Linked DNA regions of Homo sapiens. The protein of the gene in region 1 interacts with the protein of each later gene in a pairwise test. Each region holds a gene or a part of one and is shown in the gene's direction. Other genes may lie near its edges.

Evidence for each region. The genes of interacting proteins can lie anywhere in the genome.
Region 2: the proteins of YIPF1 (region 1) and CMTM2 interact in binary tests that used the Homo sapiens proteins (3 or more experiments, as listed by UniProt).
Region 3: the proteins of YIPF1 (region 1) and CNR2 interact in binary tests that used the Homo sapiens proteins (3 or more experiments, as listed by UniProt).

Annotation. Positions count from the first base shown.
Region 1 is NC_000001.11:53,886,798-53,894,040, reverse strand, and holds the start of YIPF1 (protein YIPF1), read left to right. Parts: upstream 1-4,243; 5' UTR 4,244-4,328; intron 4,329-4,577; 5' UTR 4,578-4,797; intron 4,798-5,054; 5' UTR 5,055-5,103; coding exon 5,104-5,134; intron 5,135-7,243.
Region 2 is NC_000016.10:66,574,697-66,582,493, forward strand, and holds the start of CMTM2 (CKLF-like MARVEL transmembrane domain-containing protein 2), read left to right. Parts: upstream 1-4,766; 5' UTR 4,767-4,911; coding exon 4,912-5,196; intron 5,197-5,329; coding exon 5,330-5,488; intron 5,489-7,797. Other genes in the region: CKLF-CMTM1 protein, read left to right, coding at 2,408-2,506, 4,135-4,305; CMTM1 (CKLF-like MARVEL transmembrane domain-containing protein 1), read left to right, coding at 2,408-2,506, 4,135-4,305.
Region 3 is NC_000001.11:23,869,984-23,875,369, reverse strand, and holds the end of CNR2 (cannabinoid receptor 2), read left to right. Parts: coding exon 1-835; 3' UTR 836-4,855; downstream 4,856-5,386. UniProt on the Homo sapiens protein: Heterotrimeric G protein-coupled receptor for endocannabinoid 2-arachidonoylglycerol mediating inhibition of adenylate cyclase. May function in inflammatory response, nociceptive transmission and bone homeostasis.

The DNA of each region.
Region 1 (7,243 bases):
CCAGGTGCACAAAGGTCTGTTTTAATCATTATCATTTCCAATTCTTTGCCTGAGCTTTTGAGAGATTCTTGGATTGGTAGATTCCACATCTTAAATTCTCCCTCTGATTAATTTTTTAAAAAACAAGTACTTAAAAAGACCACACTTAAAGAGAACCTGTTAGATGCTCTCTCACAAGTCAGTAGATTTGGCTATTAGTTATTCTTTATACACAAACTCTTCTTTTACTAATGAAAGATGTTTTTCCCAACAAAGATCTTTGTTTTCCCAACAAACATCCATGGTTTTTTGTTGTTGTTGCTGGAGATGGAGTCTCGCTCTGTCGCCCAGGCTGGAGTGCAGTGGCACGATCTTGGCTCACTGCAACCTCTGCCTCCCAGGTTCAAGCAGTTATCCTGCCTCAACCTCCTGAGTAGCTGGGATTACAGGCGCCTGCCACCACGCCTGGCTAATTTTTGTATTTTTAGTAGAGACAGGGTTTCACCGTGTTGGTCAGGCTGGTCTTGAACTCCTGACCTCAGATGACCTACCCGCCTTGGCCTCCAAAAGTGCTGGGATTACAGGCTCGAGCCACCGCACCCGGCCCCCAATCATGGCTTCTAGCTGGTGGTTGACTATTTCTGTAGTCAGAGCCCTCCCCAGGGGATATGGATCTCAAACCTCCCAGGGCAGAGACAGAAATGGGACCATTTCTAACAAAACCTGGGGCCTGCAACTCCCCTTAGCACTGGGCATAGAGTGACAAATAAAACACCCTCTTCTCTCAAGGAAGTCATGGTCTAGTGCGGGGAATAGACAAGTAAACAAAAAACTACCATTTCCTAAATGAAGTCCAGAGGCGGAGGGTGTGCGTGGGCTACGAGAGCAGGGAGAAGGGGAAGCTAATTCTGGTTAGAGAAGTCAAGAGGACTTCACTGAGGAAGTGATTTCTATGCTGAAACCAGAAAGACGGCAAGCAGTCAGCTGGCTAAAGTGGGGATAGTGTCCTGGTGGAAGGAACCACATGGCCAAAGGCCCAGAAGCCAGAGACAGCATGGCTCATTGGAGAAACTGAAAGAAGAATCATAGAGCTCAGAGTTGGGAAGTGTTTTAAAATACACCCAAGACCTTTTTTTTTTTAAATAATTGAGACGGGGTTTCCTTCCTCTGTCACCAGGCTGGAGGGCAGTGGTGTGATCATAGCTCACTGCAGCCTCAAACTCCTGGCTCAAGCCATCCTCTCACCTCAGCCAGAGTAGTTAGGACTACAGGAGTGCCACCCAAACCCGGCAAATTTTGTGACTGTTATAGCTTCTCCTTATGTTGCCCAGGCTGGTCTTGAACTCTTGACCTCAAACAATCCTCCTTCCTTGATCTCTCAAAATGCTGGGATTATGGGAATGAGCCACCATGCCCAGCCCCCAACTTCTTAAAGTAATCAGGGCTGATTTTCCCCACCATGTGTCACTCTTTATTTATTTATTTTTGAGACAGAGCCTCGCTCTGTTGTCCAGGCTGGAGTGTAGTGGCACAATCTCGGCTCACTGCAACCTCCGCCTCCCAGGTTCAAGCAATTCTCCTGCCTCAGCCTCCCAAGTAGCTGGGATTACAGGCGTGTGCCACCATGCCCAGCTAATTTTTGTGTTTTCAGTAGAGATGGGTTTCGCCATGTTGGCCAGGTTGGTCTCGAATTCCTGACCTCAGGTGATCCGCCCACCTTGGCCTCCGAAAGTGCTGGGATTACAGGCGTGAGACACCGCGCCCAGCCGGCACTCTTTTCTTTACCTGCTGGTGCAGTGGTATGAGAAGCCAAAAATGCCTAAGTGGTAGTTACAGCTTCCAATTCAGTGGAACTGTAACTGGAATGGAAGTGTTCTCTCTCCGCCTTCCCTGCTTCCCTGGGACCAGGATCTCCAACCAAGCAGAACTTAAACTTGTGACGCAGGAGGCACACATTCTATGTGTGTAGGTTTCACTGAAAGTGATAGTAAGAAGTGCTACCCCTTGGTTTGCAAATCTATAGGTATTTAGAACAAAGTACCATTATAAATAATTGATAAACCATTGGTTTAGTACATGTACTACATGCCGGAGGACAATGCCCCAGTCTCCTGAGTATTTTCCCCAACCTGGAGCCCTAACTGTGCCTTTAACAAGCCATTCCACCATCCTATTAGGCCACCTACTATTGGATGACTGAGTCACATGGTAAGACCAGTGGGTAAGACCCATGGTTATGTGTCACTGTTGCATGTTCTTTACAATTAAATTGGTCCCTTAGTCCAAAGCAATGTTGTGCAGGTAATCATTGCAGGATCCGTAAGCAAGAGGACTTTGCTTTCCTTTAACAAGGGGGAAAGGACTACTTCTGCCACAGCCACCTTTCCCTTGAAAGATTCAAGGGAAACTGGAAACGAGGGATGGTCAAGTCTCAGGCTTTCCTACCCAAATATCCTCATCCCAGTTCTCAGGTTCCCATTCATTTTCTGACAATGCCCCAGCTTTGATGGAGGAGACCTACAGAGGCTGTGCATTCAGTCTTCGTTGAAACTTTGCCACCCTTACAATTAGATCTTGGGCCTGATTTTCAGTCCAGTCTTTCTCAAGGCTATAGAAGAATAAGAATCTTCAAAGCTGCCATAGAGGCTCTCTAGCTTTCACAAAGTGCCTCAAGTTGACAGTTGGCTGTTCTAAGTCTGTCATTTTATTTTCAAGGTTTCCAATGGAGTTAAGAACACCCAGTCCATTCCATAGTCCTTATAATTACCATTGTCCTCTTAATGTTCCTGTGCCACAGCCACTAGATAACTCAGCACCTTATCTTCTACCTGCACGTTATCCCAATCAACTGCAGACAGACACCTTAGTAATTGTGATGCCATTCTATTCTAAGTGTTATCACACCACCACCACCCCCCTCCTTCTCTCTCCCCTTAACACCAGCAATATATTTGTTGTTGCCATGTGACTGGTGCGCAGTTCAGTTAGAAAATGCCAACCTAAGGTTTTATTTTCTGGGGCCACTTTTGGTACCAACATGCCTTCATATTGCTTCCTCATATGAGTAGTTTATTGGCAAGTATGAATCCAAGCACCAGGAGTGAAGTACAGGGCTTGTATATCAGGGAAGGAAGGAGACCCATTGCGAAGATGCATTGTCAAATGCGTCACTTCCAAAGGCATTTGGTTGCTTAATCCTGCTAGGTAGTTTGAAAGCTATATGAAAGGGCGCCTGAGGGGGAAAAACAGGAAAAGCATATATTCATCAAGTGTTGACCCCATTGGTCAGAGATTTGCCTCATGAGACATTAACAACTCTCTACCCCTACACTTCTGGGATGCACCTGTCTGGGTGCTGATTGGCTCCAGCAAGGTCCCATGGCCCCATCGCATGAAGAAACAAGCCTCGAAGCAGAAAGTGAGAAGCCTGAGGCATAGACTGGAGGCAAGCTCACTCAGGTTATATCTGCTGACGCTGGAATAAGATGAGTGGCGGTGAAATAAGCAGCAGGTGAGGCCAAGATGATCTGAAATGGGACATAAGAGGTGGCTGATATACTAGCACAGCTGAATTCATGAACTGAGATTCATTCCTGGTACATACTCAACCAAAAGTGCCCTGCACATGCTCTAAGCCTCAGCTTTCTCTTTGTAAAATGAGGATAATCACCCCAAGATAGCAGGATTGTTCTGAGAATTAGAGATCCTGCATGTACAAAGCCTGATCATGATCATCTTGGGGAAAAAAATACACTATATATGGCTATTATTAGATGTAAAGTCTTTCCAAGCGCTCACTTACTGGGGGTGCTCATACGAACAGACATCGCGCTTTCGATCACTCATTCAGAATGTAATTGACTCATCATGTACTTTCTCACCAGTGAAATTTTTGTGGCCAAAAGAAACTGAGGGACTGGTGACGCGGGTGACTTAATTTTTTCTTTCACAATCGTCTTTCATCACCCGATTTTATATTTCCTTAGGAAAAGAGGTATAAACACACAGTAAGAAAACCCTAAACTCGAGAATTTTCTACGTTCCCTGGAGCAAGGCCAGCCCAAGTAGTCACACTCAGCGACCCCACCACTCCGCCCTCGCCTGTCTCTTTAAGAACTCGAGGCTCAGCCTCGGGAGAAGGGCGGGCGGGAGCGGGCTCTGCGCGCCGCAGCACGCAGGTTTCTCTGGGAGCTGCTGTCTCTTTAAGGAGGCGGGGCTCTTCCCGGAGGAGGCGGAGAGGTTCCGCCCCCCGGATCTCCGGCTTCCGGCAACTGGGCTGGACCGAAACCGGCGCGGAGCAACTGAGGCCCGAGCCTTCTCGGGACCCGGGGGACGCCTAACCCCGCGAGGTGAGGCTGCCGAGTTTGCGGGACCTGTACGAGGCTAAGGGGGTTCAGGATCTCCTGCCCGCCCGGGCCGCCGCGGCCCAGCTCCTCTCCCTGAAACACTGCCTCTGCTTCGCGGTGTCCCGGGCTGCAGGGTCGCCGACACCCCATTGCCTACTAATTGCCTGACTCCGCTCTAGGCTCCTTACACGCACTCCCATTTAATGACCCCCGCACTGTGTGACTAGGTATCGTTATGCACCCATTTTACAGATGAGGAAACTGAGGCCGCGAGGAGCGCGCATACAGCAGAGAAGCAGCAGAATCGGGAATCAAACCCAGCTCTGTCTGACCCCAGAGCCTGTGCCTTTAACCACTGGCTAGGCTGAACTGCCTTTGTTCTTCACTGTCCCCATCACCTCTTTCAAACCTCAGCCTCTCCTTCCTCATCGTTACATCTCTAGGCTGCACCTGCTCTCTAAACATTCACACAGTGAGTTGAGATTCATTCCTGGTACATACACAACCAAATAAGGTTGAATTGGAACCTTTGGATCCCCGGGGTTAGTTTCTTTGTTACAGTTTTAATATTTAATAATACCTGATGCTTAGTGGTTATCTTTATATAAACCTATTAAACCCCACTGAAAAGGGAGGCAAGGGAAAGTGATACCATTTCTAATACATAAGAGTTGTTTGCAGATACTTTATACTGTCATCCTATTATGTTTACCTATTTTTTTCTTTTAGAACCCTGCAAATTTTCTTCCTCATAATTGGGAGAAGACTCACTGGCCGAATGGCAGCAGTAGATGACTTGCAATTTGAAGGTATACCAGTTGGGTGCCCACCTTTATATTTATGATCACTGTTGCTACAGTCACAGCAAGTATTTTCATTCCTATACTGCCTCACACATTGAAGGATATTATTTCAAACATCTTGGTGGCTGTTGGCCACATCCAGGTGTTTCCTGTTTGTCCACACCAGCTGTTTTTGTTTTTGTTTTTTTTGCCAGATAACCCTTCAGATTGGTAACGAGTATCATAAATTTAGTACAGTGATTACAGAAAATGCTTACACAGTTCCTGCTTTAGTTCAGAAAACATTTATTGAGCACTTACTTTGTGCTTAGAACCGTACAAGATACTGGAGACAAAAAGATGAAGAAGTTTATCCACTGGTGGAGTAGATAAAAATGTAAAAAGATCATTAGGATGAAATGTGATCAGATCATTCCCTCATTGAATCAGTAAATATCTCCTGGTTGTGACCAGGAACCGGGCAATTGTTCTAGTTATCAGGGATAGAAGAGTGAACAAAATAGTTTCCTTGTGAAGCTCTCAGTCTAGTGAGGGGGACATGTATTTATTAAATGATCATTTAAATATATACCTACAAACTATGAAAGTGCTGGAGGAAAAGTTCAAGGAGATATTAGGACTCATAACCCAGAGCCTGACTTAGGCTAGGGATTGATGAACACTTGTTTGTTTGTTTGTTTGTTTCTTTTGATGGAGTCTCACTCTGTTGCCCAGGCTGGAGTGCCTTGGCTCGATCTTGGCTTGCTGCAACCTCTGCCTCCCGGGTTCAGACGATTCTCCTGCCTCAGCCTTCTGAGTAGCTGGAACTACAGGTGCCCGTCACCACACCCGACTAATTTTTGTATTTTTAGTAGAGACGGGGCTTCACCATATTGGCCAGGCTGGTCTCGAACTTCTGACCTTGTGATCCACCCATCTTGGCCTTCCAAAGTGCTGGGATTACAGGCATGAACCACCAGGCCTGGCCCACTTACTTGTTTTATTAACACCTTACCTAACATTTACTATATGTCAGGCACTGTTCTAAATCCTGTACAGATAATCCTTATGTCAACTTTATGAAATAGTTACTTTATTCCCCTGTTTTATTAATGAGGAGACTGAGGCACAGAAAAATAATTTGCCTAATGGTCACGCAGTTAGTAAGGGATAAAATCAGGATTTGAACCCATCCAGTCTGGTATCACAGCTTATGCTGTCTCTGTTATCTAAGGAAGAGATACACTGTTTAAAGATAAATCTATTTCATTTGCAAGTACTAGAAATCCACCTCAATTTGCAAATACTGTCAACCTCGTCTTCAAAATTCATCTAGCATCTGACCACCTCCACCACTACTCTCACCATGCTCAAGGTCACTGTCACCTTTTTTCTGAATTATAGCCTTTACCTTCCTTCTGGTCTTTCTGCTTCCTCCCTTATCCCTCTACAGTCTGTACTTTGCAGCCAGAGTAGTCCTTCTAAAACTCAAGCAGATCATGTCATTCTTTCAGAACCTTCCAGTAGCTCCCATCTCACTAGAAGAAAAAGCCAGGCTGGGCGCAGTGGCTCACACCTGTAATCCCAGCACTTTGGGAGGCCGAGGAGGGCAGATCACCTGAGGTCAGGAGTTCGAGACCAGTCTGGCCAACATGGTGAAACCCTGTCTCCACTAAAAATACAAAAATTAGCTGGGCATGGTGGTGCACGCCTGTAATCCCAGCTACTCTGGAGGCTGAGGCAGGAGAATTGCTCAAACCCAGAGGTTGCAGTGAACCGAGATCGCACCACTGTGCTCCAGCCTGGGCGACAGAGCGAGACTCCATCTCAAACATAAACAAACAAACACAAAAACGAAAAAGCCAGAGCCCTTACTGTGGCTTAGGAGGCCCCTATATGATGCAGCCTCCAACCCTCTGATTTCATCTGCTGCTCTCGTCCTTTCTGTCTCTGCCCAAGCTGCATGGGCTGTCACGGTTCTTCCTATGCACCAAGTACATTCACAGCTTGGGATGTTTGTGCCATCTTTCTGTGTGGGACATTCTCCCTTCAGATAGCCTTATGGCTTGCTTCTTTGCTCTGTTCAAATCTCTCCTCATTAGAGAGACCCTCCTCAGCCATCCTATCTAGGAGTGC
Region 2 (7,797 bases), on another chromosome or scaffold:
CTGGGCCTGGTCTGTGGTTGGTTTATTATTATCATTAATGATGTGCGTTTGTTCAAATTCTTGTAATCTAAGACCACAGCTGGTTAGTGGTCAGAGAAACTGAGCTCCGGTTATATAGATATTTTGGCCAACAGAGAGCAATTTTTAAAAAAGAATATTTGACTTTTGAAGTTTATACTCTGCTTCTCAGTTGTAAGAATCCTTGTTCACATCTTTGACTACCTTGGTTTATACAATCCTCAGGTGTAAGCTTCCTGCAAAGCTGCAAACCACTGTACCTGCCTCAGTCAGGCCTGCCCACTATGGGCAGACCTCTCGCTCAGCCTGCAGAACCCAGCTGGGACTTACTTCCAACCTCCACCAGCCCTGCTACATACCCCTGTTCCAGCATTAACTACCAGGCACCAAAACAGTAGGCATTAGTGCCTTTCCAAGAGGCAAGTCACATTCCACAAGAGGGCTCCTCGGTCGCCAGCCCCAATAGGAAGAACATCTGGAGTTTGCAGAGAGTTTACTATCTGTTAACATTTTGAGGGCAGATATGAACCTACATTTTGATGCACTCCCACCAGCTACTAGATGCCAGGCATGTTATCAGATGCTTTCAGATTCATTATGCCATTTAATCCTCAGAGCCAATGAACCTCAGTCATTATCCCCATATTACAAATTAGCAAGTTGGCAGATGGGTGATAAAATACGCCCAATCTAGGAATTGGCAGGCCAAAAGAGTTCATCAACAAAAATACTCAACTGACTGGTACTGTATCATTTTGACCCTCCAGACCCATTCCACAGAAAATGCCAAAGATGGATTGGATGCTGCACTTCCAGACTGGGAGAATAGCTCATTTCCTCCTTATTTGGGTGTCCCTCATGGGAGGCAATAGTGAGTTGAGTTCTGATTCCACCCATTATTCAATCCTAGGCAACTGAAAAACTCCAAGCCTCCACCATGTCCTCTGTAAACTGGGGATGATGGCAATTCTGACTTTGGAGGCTGCTTTGTGAGGGTTAAATGAGGTTAAATGATGGACTGGGAAATGCTTGACACATCAAAGAGCTCCATTGGAGCCACTGTGATTCCATGATACCATACACTGGATGGCAGTGCTTCTTGCTGTGTTTGGACGAGTGTGCCAGAAAGGCTGCCATTACCAAGGCAGACCATCAACACTCAAAGACTTGAGCTATTCAGATTAGCTCTCTGGCCCATATTGTGGTTATGTCCTCTGGGCTTTTGCCCATAGCCATACACTGCTGCCACTGACACACTGTGTACTCGTTCCTCCATTATTGTTTTGCTAAGGAAACCCAGCCACTGCTCACCCAGGAGGGCACTGCCACGCACTCATCCTCACTATTCATTTCAGCACACAAAGAAGCAGGTTGGGCTAGCAGTTAAAGAACTCAGGACTGGCCGGGCGCGGTGGCTCACGCCTATAATCCCAGCACTTTGGGAGGCCGAGGCGGGTGGATCACTTGAGGTCAGGAGTTCATGACCATCCTGGCCAACATGAAGAAACCCTGTCTCTACTAAAAAATACAAAAATTAGCTGGGTGTGGTGGCAGGCACCTGTAATCCCACCTACTCAGGAGGTTGAGGCAGGAGAATTGCTTGAACCTGGGAGGCGGAGGTTGCAATGAGCCAAGATCGCACCATTGCACTCTAGCCTGGGTGACAAGAGCGAAACTCTGTCTCAAAAAAAAAAAAGAACTCAGGACTGAAATCCAATTGAAACCCAGAAGAAGGAGCACAATGAGCCTGCAGATGTCGGGGCACACCCAATTCTGGCCATGTTTCAGGAAAGAGCAAAAAACATTCACTCCAGAATATCAGGCCTGCTCCTCAGATGAGTTCATATGCTCTTGGGACACATGAACTCACAGAATAAATGTGGCCCAATTTCCAGAGCGTTGGCTTTACCTGCAGATTTGGGAGAAGAAGTAAACCAATAATTAAAGTGCTCATCTAAAATTTTATTTTTATATTAAAACAAATGAGTTATGGAATAGAATGCAGAATTTACATTAAAAAATATAAGACTTCCCAAAAAAAATCACATTTATGGAGGGCCAATTTGGGATAGGCCCCTTGACCACCAGGTTTTTTCATGCTCACTTTCCTATTCCCTTTAAGGAAAAAGTTGTTAGCTTTTTTTCTAATGGTATTCTTTAATGAAAATAAACCCGTTTCTACAGACAAAGTCATATCTAGGATCTTAAAACCACATAAACTCATGTCTCTGGACGATGTAAGAATTATGCCTCTGAAGGTTCCTCCTCATCTTAATCAAATGGAAGGTTTTTTAAAGGCATCTATTCTTAGATGTGTAATTGACCAGTTTAAATATTTGTGAAATTATATTGTTGTGTAAACTTGATAATTTTCAATTCTTTATTACAGGATCTTACCAACAGTATCATTACAGCTGTGTTCCTTTCAGTAGTTGCCATCTTGGCCATGCAAGAAAAGAAAAGAAGGCATTTACTCTATGTCGGGGGGGTAAGTAGAGGCCTTCATGACTCCATTTAAGATCAGTATTCCAAGACTTTGAAAAGGGAAATTGGCAGACCCCATTATATCATTAACCAAGCAAAATCCCCACTGCCACCCACTCTCCTTCTTGCACTGACTTCTTCAGGTGATATGAAGTTGCACAAACTCTGAGCTCATGAAAATCTTAATTCTAACATGCATTCTCCAAATAGGTACAAAAACAAGAGTCTGCTAAACCCCTTTTGAGAATTGTGGACACTATTTTTGAAATGTTAAGCAAGATCTTTTTGTCTATAAATAGGACTTTGATTTTCTGGACTAGAGAATTGTATTTTAAAGACAGATGATAAGAGAGATTGTAAGGGGGGAAAAGTGCACTGTCTAAAGTGAGGAATCCAGCCTATTCAGGAAGGAAGGAAGGAAAGAAGGAAGAAAGGAAGGAAGGAAACTGCCACATGTTGAAGTGCCCAGTATATGCCCTGCACCAAGCAGGGCACACTCTGACTTAATCTTTACAACTCTCATTTGTACAGATATAGGAACTGAGGTTAAATACCTTGCTCTGGGCCACAAGACTGGGACAAATTGGGACTCAAAAGAAATGGCAGATCAAATGCTTGGAAGATTCAGGGGGTTGGGAGGGGAGGTAGGGCTTTGGTTCAAGAAGTTAAACAATGAGAACAGAAATTAATGCAGAAAAAGAGTTCATTTGAATTCATTCTATAATCAATAAATATCTGTCAATCCCATTGATTGTGCCAGACATGAGCTCAGTGCTGGGGATAGAGCCCTTTCCCCTTTGGGGAAGCTCACAGATTCACTGGGGCAAGACATACCTAGGAAAAGCTCATTAAGCAGCCAGGAATTAAGTGACCATAAAGAGAAACATCCAAGGTTGTCAAGAGTCCCGGAGTGCACAGGGGAATATCTGTGCCATCAGCCCCTGGTCCCCATCGGCTGACTCCGCTATCACTCCTTCTACTGCCAGGGGTTCCCACCCCCAGGTATCCATTTCTTACCTGGATGGCAGCATCCCACCCCACCACGCACTGGTCTTCCTGCCTCCAGCCTGGTTCACCTTCCATTCACCTCATGAACACTGCAAGCAGGTTTTCTGAATCTCACACCTGACCTCCTGATAGAGTCCCAGATCCTGCACCTCTCCAGCCTCAACTCTGCCCCCTTCTCAGCGGCTCTGGAGGTCCTGGCCACACCAGATTCCTTAGAGACCCTAGTCCAGTGCCTGGGTCCTCCTCCTCCCCTTAGGAACTCCTTCCTGCCCTTTGCAAACATAGCCCAAAAGTCTTTCCACGGAGAGGGCTTCTCAGGACCTAACCCCTACCTGCAGCCACCTAGGGCCACTGCCCTTCCCTAGTCCTTTCCGGGTGCCTCAGACATCAAGCGAGGCTACTACTGGCAACAAAATCCCCCACTTCCAAAATCCCTTTTTCTGGGAAAGGCAGAATCCGCCTGCAGCAGCCAATTGGGCAGGCGCCAAGAAAGTAGTGAAGGGTCAGAGGGGACAGGAGGCCACCCGCAGCGCCCACCCTGGATAGGGATAGGTTCGAGAGGTTGCTACTGAGCTGCAAAATAACCCCGTCTTTCCTTCCCGCATATGGTCTTGTATCTGACAGTCCCTGTGTCTCACAGCGGTAATCGTGTGTTGCATCGATGCGTTTGTGGTCACCACGAAGATGAGGACCAACTTGAAAAGATTCCTGGGAGTCGAAGTTGAAAGGAAGCTTTCCCCCGCCAAGGACGCCTACCCCGAAACCGGCCCCGACGCCCCGCAGAGGCCCGCCTGAAGCCAGCCCGGCGCCCTAGCAGATGCACGTGTCTGTCGAATCGCTGCCTCCGAGCCCACCCCCGAGCTCGCATGCTGTCACCCATTCCAGCCTAAATGTGACCATAAAATTAGGGCTGCTGCTTTTATCGAGAACACCTGCTTCCTCTCGTTGCCTTGTGTGAAAGTCGCGTTGTATTTTCCTGCGCTTGGCGCTGCGCCCGCGGAGCTCAGGGCCGTGACCCGGTGCTCGCAGCCCCCCGACCCCGCAGCGGAGCGGCGGCTTACAGACCTGGGGCCACCTGGAGACGCCGGGATGGGACCGCGAGGGCAGCTCCGCGCGGAGGTGGGACCGGCGGGTTGGGAACGGAGTTGGGGCCCGTCGGGGGCCGGCGCGTGGAGGGTGGGAGGATCCGGCCGCTGCCGGGCGGATGGGAGCTGCGCGAGGAGACGGGCGCGCGTGGAGAGGGCGCGGGAGTTGGCATTCGGTGGTCCTGGCAGTTAGCTGAGCACGCCCTCTGAGCCGCTCGGTGGACACCAGGCACTCTAGTAGGCCTGGCCTACCCAGAAACAGCAGGAGAGAGAAGAAACAGGCCAGCTGTGAGAAGCCAAGGACACCGAGTCAGTCATGGCACCTAAGGCGGCAAAGGGGGCCAAGCCAGAGCCAGCACCAGCTCCACCTCCACCCGGGGCCAAACCCGAGGAAGACAAGAAGGACGGTAAGGAGCCATCGGACAAACCTCAAAAGGCGGTGCAGGACCATAAGGAGCCATCGGACAAACCTCAAAAGGCGGTGCAGCCCAAGCACGAAGTGGGCACGAGGAGGGGGTGTCGCCGCTACCGGTGGGAATTAAAAGACAGCAATAAAGAGTTCTGGCTCTTGGGGCACGCTGAGATCAAGATTCGGAGTTTGGTGAGCTAAACTGGTATCCCTGGGTGGGGGGCCTTGGCCGAGGGTGGGGGGAAGGAGGAGTAGGCTCCAGGGGTCCTCAGAGAGATGGTGAAAGGCCCTTGCTGCTGGCTCAGGTGTCTATGTCTCACTGCAGGGCTGCCTAATAGCTGCAATGATACTGTTGTCCTCACTCACCGTGCACCCCATCTTGAGGCTTATCATCACCATGGAGATATCCTTCTTCAGCTTCTTCATCTTACTGTACAGCTTTGCCATTCATAGATACATACCCTTCATCCTGTGGCCCATTTCTGTAAGTAAGGGGTGATGGGGAGTGCCTGCATCCAGAATGCTGATCAGGTGTGTCTTGGCACCTGGAAAGTCACCAAACAGAGAGACACACCTCACCTCCCATATCTGTGCCTGGGTCAGGGACTCAGAACATCAGTGGGGCCCAGGCAGAGGCAGCTGGGTGCAAGAGGGGTAGCTAGGCAGAAAATGCTCCAAAAAGCCTATCTGTGTGTTGGAGTGAGAGTGGGGAACTCTTACTTACCTGGTGGTCAAAGAGGGCCTGAGCCTTTGTTCTCTTTAGGGGAAGGGGAGGTGTAGCAACCAGCTGTTCCTCCGAACTCCTGTGCCAGCTCACACTTGACAGGAGATCACCCCAGAAGGACCCCATTCCCAAAATTCAAAGAAGAAAATTACTCTCCCATAAGTCAATAAAATAAAACAAAATGGGAATTTTTTTTAAAAATCACTTCTAAAGCAGCGTTAGGTCTCCAGTGAATATCCCTATAAAGGATGTTTGGATCAGAAGGATGTTCAGCCCAAAGCAGTCATCTAGTGGAAAGAGACAGAACTGGGCAAGTTACTAAACCATTCCCAGCCTGTTTCCTCATCTGTAACATGAGACAGTCACATTCCTTGCAGAACTGACATTCAATCCTGAGGATTAAATGTAAATTGCTTGACACCGTGCCTGAGGACTCATGGAATTGAATCCCTGCCCATCACCTGTTTAACCACAGGGCACAACCACCTAACCCCTTGCCAGTCAATGAAGACCCCAATTCCCAAGTCCCTTTGTTCATTGCACATTCACAGCCTGCCTCCAGAGCCCTCTTGTTCACTGTTTCACTCACGTTACACATGAGGAAATTGGCCTAGAATGGCCAAGTAACTTGCCCCCAGGTCACTCAGCTGGTAAGTAGCAGAAAAAAGCTTCAAACTTAGCTTTATGAGTACATTTCATCCTGCCTTCTTGTTAAAAACTATTAGGGTCCAGGGATCCAGAGGTCTTGGTGAAGCAGATGAGGACCTCCGATACAGGGAGAAAGGACAGGAGGGCCAAATAAGGACTCTCAGAAAAGGGACAAGCAGAGGACAAGGTAAAAGGACAGGCAGAGGACAAGTTCCTAAACAAGGAGCCTGAGAAGACATTTTTAGTTCCAGCAAGATGAAAAACCAATGAACCCTGAACATCTTCCCACTGTGCTTACCTAAAAATACCAGGGGAAATGTAACCAGTATTGCTTTAACTGAATGAATGAGCTGGCAAAAAAGAAATGAAAACACACAGGCGCCAGAAATGGCAAACAGGGCAGTGATCACATAAGCTACAAAGTATGAGTGGGAATGGTCCAAGAGGTATTGTCTCAGGAACCTACAGCCTGGATTTTCATGCACTCTCAAGTCAGGAAATAAGGCCTTGATCCTAAGCAAAGTGGGAATTTAGAACTGAAAACCCTGTATAAAGCCAGCGCCCTGGAAAGACTACCTCCTTAGGGAAAAGATGGACAAAGACACATACCCTTCTTATTCCCAACACAGAGGAATAAGAAAACATGTTCATCTCTGCCTGAGCTTTGAGTGGGCGGAGAGGAAGTCTTCCTTGAGAAATAGAAAGCTTAAGCCTGCCCTTTGTACAGATTGGAGTTTGAATTTTTGTTATCTGCAGCCTAGAAACCTTCATGCAGCCCAGAAACCTTCATCCCTGGGAATTACCATAAAAACTGATCCCAGTCTGATGACATTCTGCTGATATCCTTGGACTCCTGATAGAAACAAATGCAAAATCACAATCAAGGCATGAAGAGATTCTCACAGTGGGGGTGGGGGGAAAACCTTGTCAAAAATGAACTAATAATTCAAAACTACTAAACACCTGATTTTAAAAAATCCCCATTACTAAGAATCAACAAACACAACAAATGGATTAGAATCCTGAGAATATGAGATAATAGAAGAGCTGTCTGAAAATAATAATATATTTTAAGGGATTATAGACATAAGAGTCCTGAGAAAAGAGTAAGACACTATGAGGACAAAATAGACAGATTTTTAAAAAGTACAGTGTCTAGAATAGAAAATATAGTTATTGAAATAAAAATGTCAATAGATGAATTCAAAAACAGATCAGACATAGCTGAAGGAGGGAACTGTTAACTGAAAGGTATGGGGAAATTACCCAGAACACAGCACACAGAGAGAGAGAAAATAAGAGATTGAGACAGAACAATGAGTGAGAACATCCATCAGTGGTTGTTGGGCTGGGTGTGGTGGCTCACACCTGTAATCCCAGCACGTTGGGAGGCTGAGGTGGATGGGTCCCTTTGGTCCAGG
Region 3 (5,386 bases), about 30 Mb from region 1:
CAGTGTGGTCTTTGCATGCAGCTTTGTGAATTTCCATGTTTTCCATGGTGTGGATTCCAAGGCTGTCTTCCTGCTGAAGATTGGCAGCGTGACTATGACCTTCACAGCCTCTGTGGGTAGCCTCCTGCTGACCGCCATTGACCGATACCTCTGCCTGCGCTATCCACCTTCCTACAAAGCTCTGCTCACCCGTGGAAGGGCACTGGTGACCCTGGGCATCATGTGGGTCCTCTCAGCACTAGTCTCCTACCTGCCCCTCATGGGATGGACTTGCTGTCCCAGGCCCTGCTCTGAGCTTTTCCCACTGATCCCCAATGACTACCTGCTGAGCTGGCTCCTGTTCATCGCCTTCCTCTTTTCCGGAATCATCTACACCTATGGGCATGTTCTCTGGAAGGCCCATCAGCATGTGGCCAGCTTGTCTGGCCACCAGGACAGGCAGGTGCCAGGAATGGCCCGAATGAGGCTGGATGTGAGGTTGGCCAAGACCCTAGGGCTAGTGTTGGCTGTGCTCCTCATCTGTTGGTTCCCAGTGCTGGCCCTCATGGCCCACAGCCTGGCCACTACGCTCAGTGACCAGGTCAAGAAGGCCTTTGCTTTCTGCTCCATGCTGTGCCTCATCAACTCCATGGTCAACCCTGTCATCTATGCTCTACGGAGTGGAGAGATCCGCTCCTCTGCCCATCACTGCCTGGCTCACTGGAAGAAGTGTGTGAGGGGCCTTGGGTCAGAGGCAAAAGAAGAAGCCCCGAGATCCTCAGTCACCGAGACAGAGGCTGATGGGAAAATCACTCCGTGGCCAGATTCCAGAGATCTAGACCTCTCTGATTGCTGATGAGGCCTCTTCCCAATTTAAACAACTCAAGTCAGAAATCAGTTCACTCCCTGGAAGAGAGAGAGGGGTCTTGGCACTCTCTTCTTACTTAAACCAGTCCCAGACACCTAGACACGGACCCCTTTTTGCTGATGAGTGTTGGGACTGACTCCTGGAAGACAGCCTGGCCTTGCCCACCTGCACACAGTCTGTTGGATAGGTAGGGCCACGAGGAGTAGCCAGGTAGGCGAGACACAAAAGGCCTGGGACAGGGTCAGTACAAGTCAGGTCAGGCTTCATGCCTGCATCCTCCAGAGACCACAGGAGCCAAAGCGAGCCTCCAGGCCCAGCAATGAGGGACTTGGGAGAAATCTGAGAAGAATGGGTTGTTCTCTTGGGAAGTCAGGGTATCAGATGGGATGGACATCCAGGTCTTCTCTCTGCCTAATTGTCAAGGCCTCCTTGGCTCTGGAGCTATGAAAGGCCCCACTTTCAAGTCACCCTTGCCACTGAGGACCGAGGACTATGCTATGATGAGGATTAAGGTGTTGACTTGCCTCTTTCAGAGATAAATGACAAGCCTTCAGTTTGGGGCATCCTGTTGTTTGGGCGAGGACCCTCTCTGATATTCTGATAATCCCCACCTGTAACCTCAGGTCCCTGGAAATACAGAGGAGGCTGGGATCGCCTGAGACACAAAAATCTTTGGAGAATTTTCTTGACCCTCTGAAGTCCTTCCAGCAGCAGTCCTGGTGGTGCTGCTGGAAGCAGGCAATGTCCTAGTCTAACCTAACTCGAAGAAAAAAAGGAAGATATTCACAAAGATTGTATAAATCTCCAAACTGTTCCCCTATCTGCCCCCAATTCAGCTCCCTTGCCTCCTCCACACCCCTATTACATATAATAAGCAGAGCAAGTGGGAGGAGGGGAAATGTCCTTCCTATATGCCAGGTATGGGGCTGACATTTCAGTCTATTGACCCCAGCTAGAATATAGCTCCATGATTTTAAAGATCTCAGGGGCCAGGCATGGTAGCTCATGCCTGTAATCCCAGCACTTTGGGAGGCCAAGGCAGGTGGATCACCTGAGGTCAGGAGTTTGAGACCAGCCTGACCAATATGGTGAAACCCTGTCTCTACTAAAAATACAAAAATTAGCAGGGCATGGTGGCAGGCACCTGTAGTCCCAGCTACTCGGGAGGCTGAGACAGGAGAATTGCTTGAACCCTGGAGGCAGAGGTTGCAGTGAGCCGAGATTGCACCACTGCACTCCAGCCTGGGTGACAGAGCAAGACTGTCTCAAAAAAATAAAATAAAATAGATCCCAGGGTACTCATTTTTCATATGAGGGAGGCTGGGTTCCTCCCAGAGGAGCCTAAAACAGCCAACAAGAGAAATTGTTGGCGGCAGGAAGATTGCAGAGGAATTCTAATGCAATTATTTGGGACCTCAAATGGAATAAAATGAAAGATATTGGTTAAACATGTCTTCGTTTAATACTTTCAAGACAAAATATCCACTAGCTATTCACTTATTCATTCATCTCATAAACATGAGCCAGGCTCTGTGCAGGGTCCTGAGTACCCAGCCATAAATGAGACTGTGCCCCTGTCTCATGGGGCTTACAGTCTATATCCTGCTTGCAAGACAGCCAATAAGTCAATAAAGAAGATAATTACAGGCAGTACAACAAAGGAAATATGCAGGTTCATGTCATGTAATAGGGATTAATTGAGTTAACTCAATAAACGGTAGGATAGACCTACCATGTGCCGGCTCACTTTTATTGAGCCTTTACTATGTGCCAGGCAGGGGGCTAAGTGTTTTTAAATGCCTTATTTCACTTCATGTTTCCCAACAACCTAATAAGAAGGTCTTAGTTATCTTCATTTTACAGATGTGGCAACCTCAAAGATGCAAAGTCACTTGTCTAAGGTCACCCTGCTAAGTACCAGAGCTGAGGTCTCCAACCTAGTTCTGTTTGACTTCAAAGCCTGCCCTCTTAACCACTAACCTTTTGTCCTAGTTCAGTCAAATTCTGCTTGATTATTGCTCATTAGGGATAATATTAGCTATCTGTAGCATCAGATTGCTGCAAAGTTAACTCATCGTAGATTCTCAATATACTCCATTTTATTAAATGGCCCCGTATTAATCTCCTGTAATAAATTTCACAAATCCAGTGGCTTATCAACAGAAATTTACTGTCTCATAATTCTGGAGGCCAGAAGTCAAAATCAAGATGTGGTAGGGCCCTGCTCCCTCCAAAAGTTTAAGGGGAGAATTATTCCTTGACTCTTTCAACTTCTGGCAGTCCCTGTCATTCCTTGGCTTGTGGAAACATCACTCCTACCTCTGACTCTGTCTTCATATGGCATTTCCTCTGTGTCTCTTGGTGTCTTTTTTTTTTTTTTTTTTTTTTTTGAGACGGAATCTCATTCTGTTGTCCAGGCAGGAGTGCAGTGACATGATCTTGGCTCACTGCAACCTCCACCTCTCAGGTTCAAGTGATTCTCCTGCCTCAGCCTCCCAAATAGCTGGGACTACAGGCACCCGCCACCACACTCAGCTAATTTTTGTATTTTTAGTAGAGATGGGGTTTCACCATCTTGCCCAGGCTGGTCTTGAACTCCTGACCTCAAGTGATCCGCCCACCTTGGCCTCCTAAATTGCTGGGATTACAGACGTGAGCCACCATACCCGGCCTGGTGTCTTTTTTAAAGAATATCAGTCACTGGATTTGGGCCCACCCTAATCCTAATAGTATGACTTCATCTTAATTTAACCAATTATATCTGTAGAGACCCTGTTTCCAAATAAGGTCACATTCACAGATTCCAGGTGGACAAGAAGTTTAGGCGGACACTATTCAACTCAGTACAGACCCAGGAACAAAGTCCACCCACTGGGCTGTGTTGAGTGGCAGTCACTAGTTTATCCTCCCTCAACAAGATGAGCTCCAGGTTGACCTCTGCATCCCCAGTGCTCAGTCAGGACCCAGCAGAGCATCTGAAGGGATCTGGTCAATATGTGTGGAACTGAACTGTTTCTGAAAAGCTCTGACGTATGTTTTGGAAAATCAAATCTTGTTTTAATCCAGACACCAATCTTTTTGTAAGGCAAACAAGTAGCATAAATGTTTAAAAGTGAATTTGCATGTTTATATACTGTCATTCCTTAAAGTTGAAGCATGCCTTTCTTTATTCATCGGTGGAATCCTTTCTCATTTTGGCAAAGAAAATGCCCAAGTGCCTGGCACAAACAAGCACTGAGTAAATACTTCTTGAATGAATAAAACTAGATTCTAAAAATCATTTGATCAAACGCAACTCCACACTTTCTACTTCTCTTCTTTTAGAACCACACTGTATTTCTGCTTTTTTTTTTTTTTTTTTTTTTTTTGACATAGAATCTCACTCTGTCACCCAGGTTGGAGTGCAGTGGCATGCAATCTTGGCTCACTGCAACCTCTGCCTCCTGGGTTCAAGCAGTTCTCCTGCCTTAGCCTCCCATGTAGCTGGGATTACAGGTACCCGCCACCATGCCCAGCTAATTTTTGTATTGTTAGTAGAGATGGAATTTCACCATATTGGCCAGGCTGGTCTTGAACTCCTGACTTCAAGTGATCCACCCACCTTAGCCTCCCAAAGTGCTAGGATTACAGGTGTGAGCCACCACTCCCAGCCCCTATGTCTGCTTTAAGTGGAGAAGCAGAGCTTATGAGGGAGGAGAACAAGGGTGCAAAAGGGACCTAGATATCACTGAGAACTGCCCTTGTTGTTTGGTTGAGGAAATGGGCCCAGACAGTGGACAAGACTTGCTCAGGGAGACAAACGAGATGGTGTCCAGTGCAACAAACCTAGGTTTCCTAACTTCCAGTTCTGTCCACTCTACATCAGTGCCTCTCACCTGTCCCTGCAGGTTCACATTTTGGTTATGTGGATAAGGAGAAATAAATTGAAGATCACAATGTCCCATTTTATCTTCCCCAAGACAAGCTCTGTAACATTAAAGACCACTATGCAAACCGATTACTAGAAAATGTGTGTGGATGGGTTCGGTTTTTTTCCTAAGGTGTTCATGCTTACTGTTTTGGGCAATATTTCAACATAATCTGGCAGAAAAAGAAACAGAAGATAAAGAAAATAGCTGTAGGCCGGGTGCAGTGGCTCATGCCTGTAATCCCAGCACTTTGGAAGGCTGAGGCTGGCGGATCACTTGAGGTCAGGAGTTCGAGACCAGCCTGGCCAACACGGCGAAACCCCATCTGTATTAAAAATACAAAAATTAGCCAGGCGTGGTGGCGTACCTGTAAACCCAGCTACTCGGGAGGCTGAGGCAGGAGAATGGCTTGAACCCAGGAGGTGGAGGTTGCAGTGAGCTGAGATTGCAGCACTGCATTCCAGCCTGGGCGACAGAGCAAGACTGCATCTCAAAAGAAAAGAAAAGAAAAAAGAAAAGAAAAGAAAAGAAAACAGCTGTGATTCAGCAATAGTCATTTTCTCTCCTTGTCACTGCCAGAGTGAGGAAGTGCTGGGTTCTGTCAACATAGGCTCTGACTTCTCATGAGGTG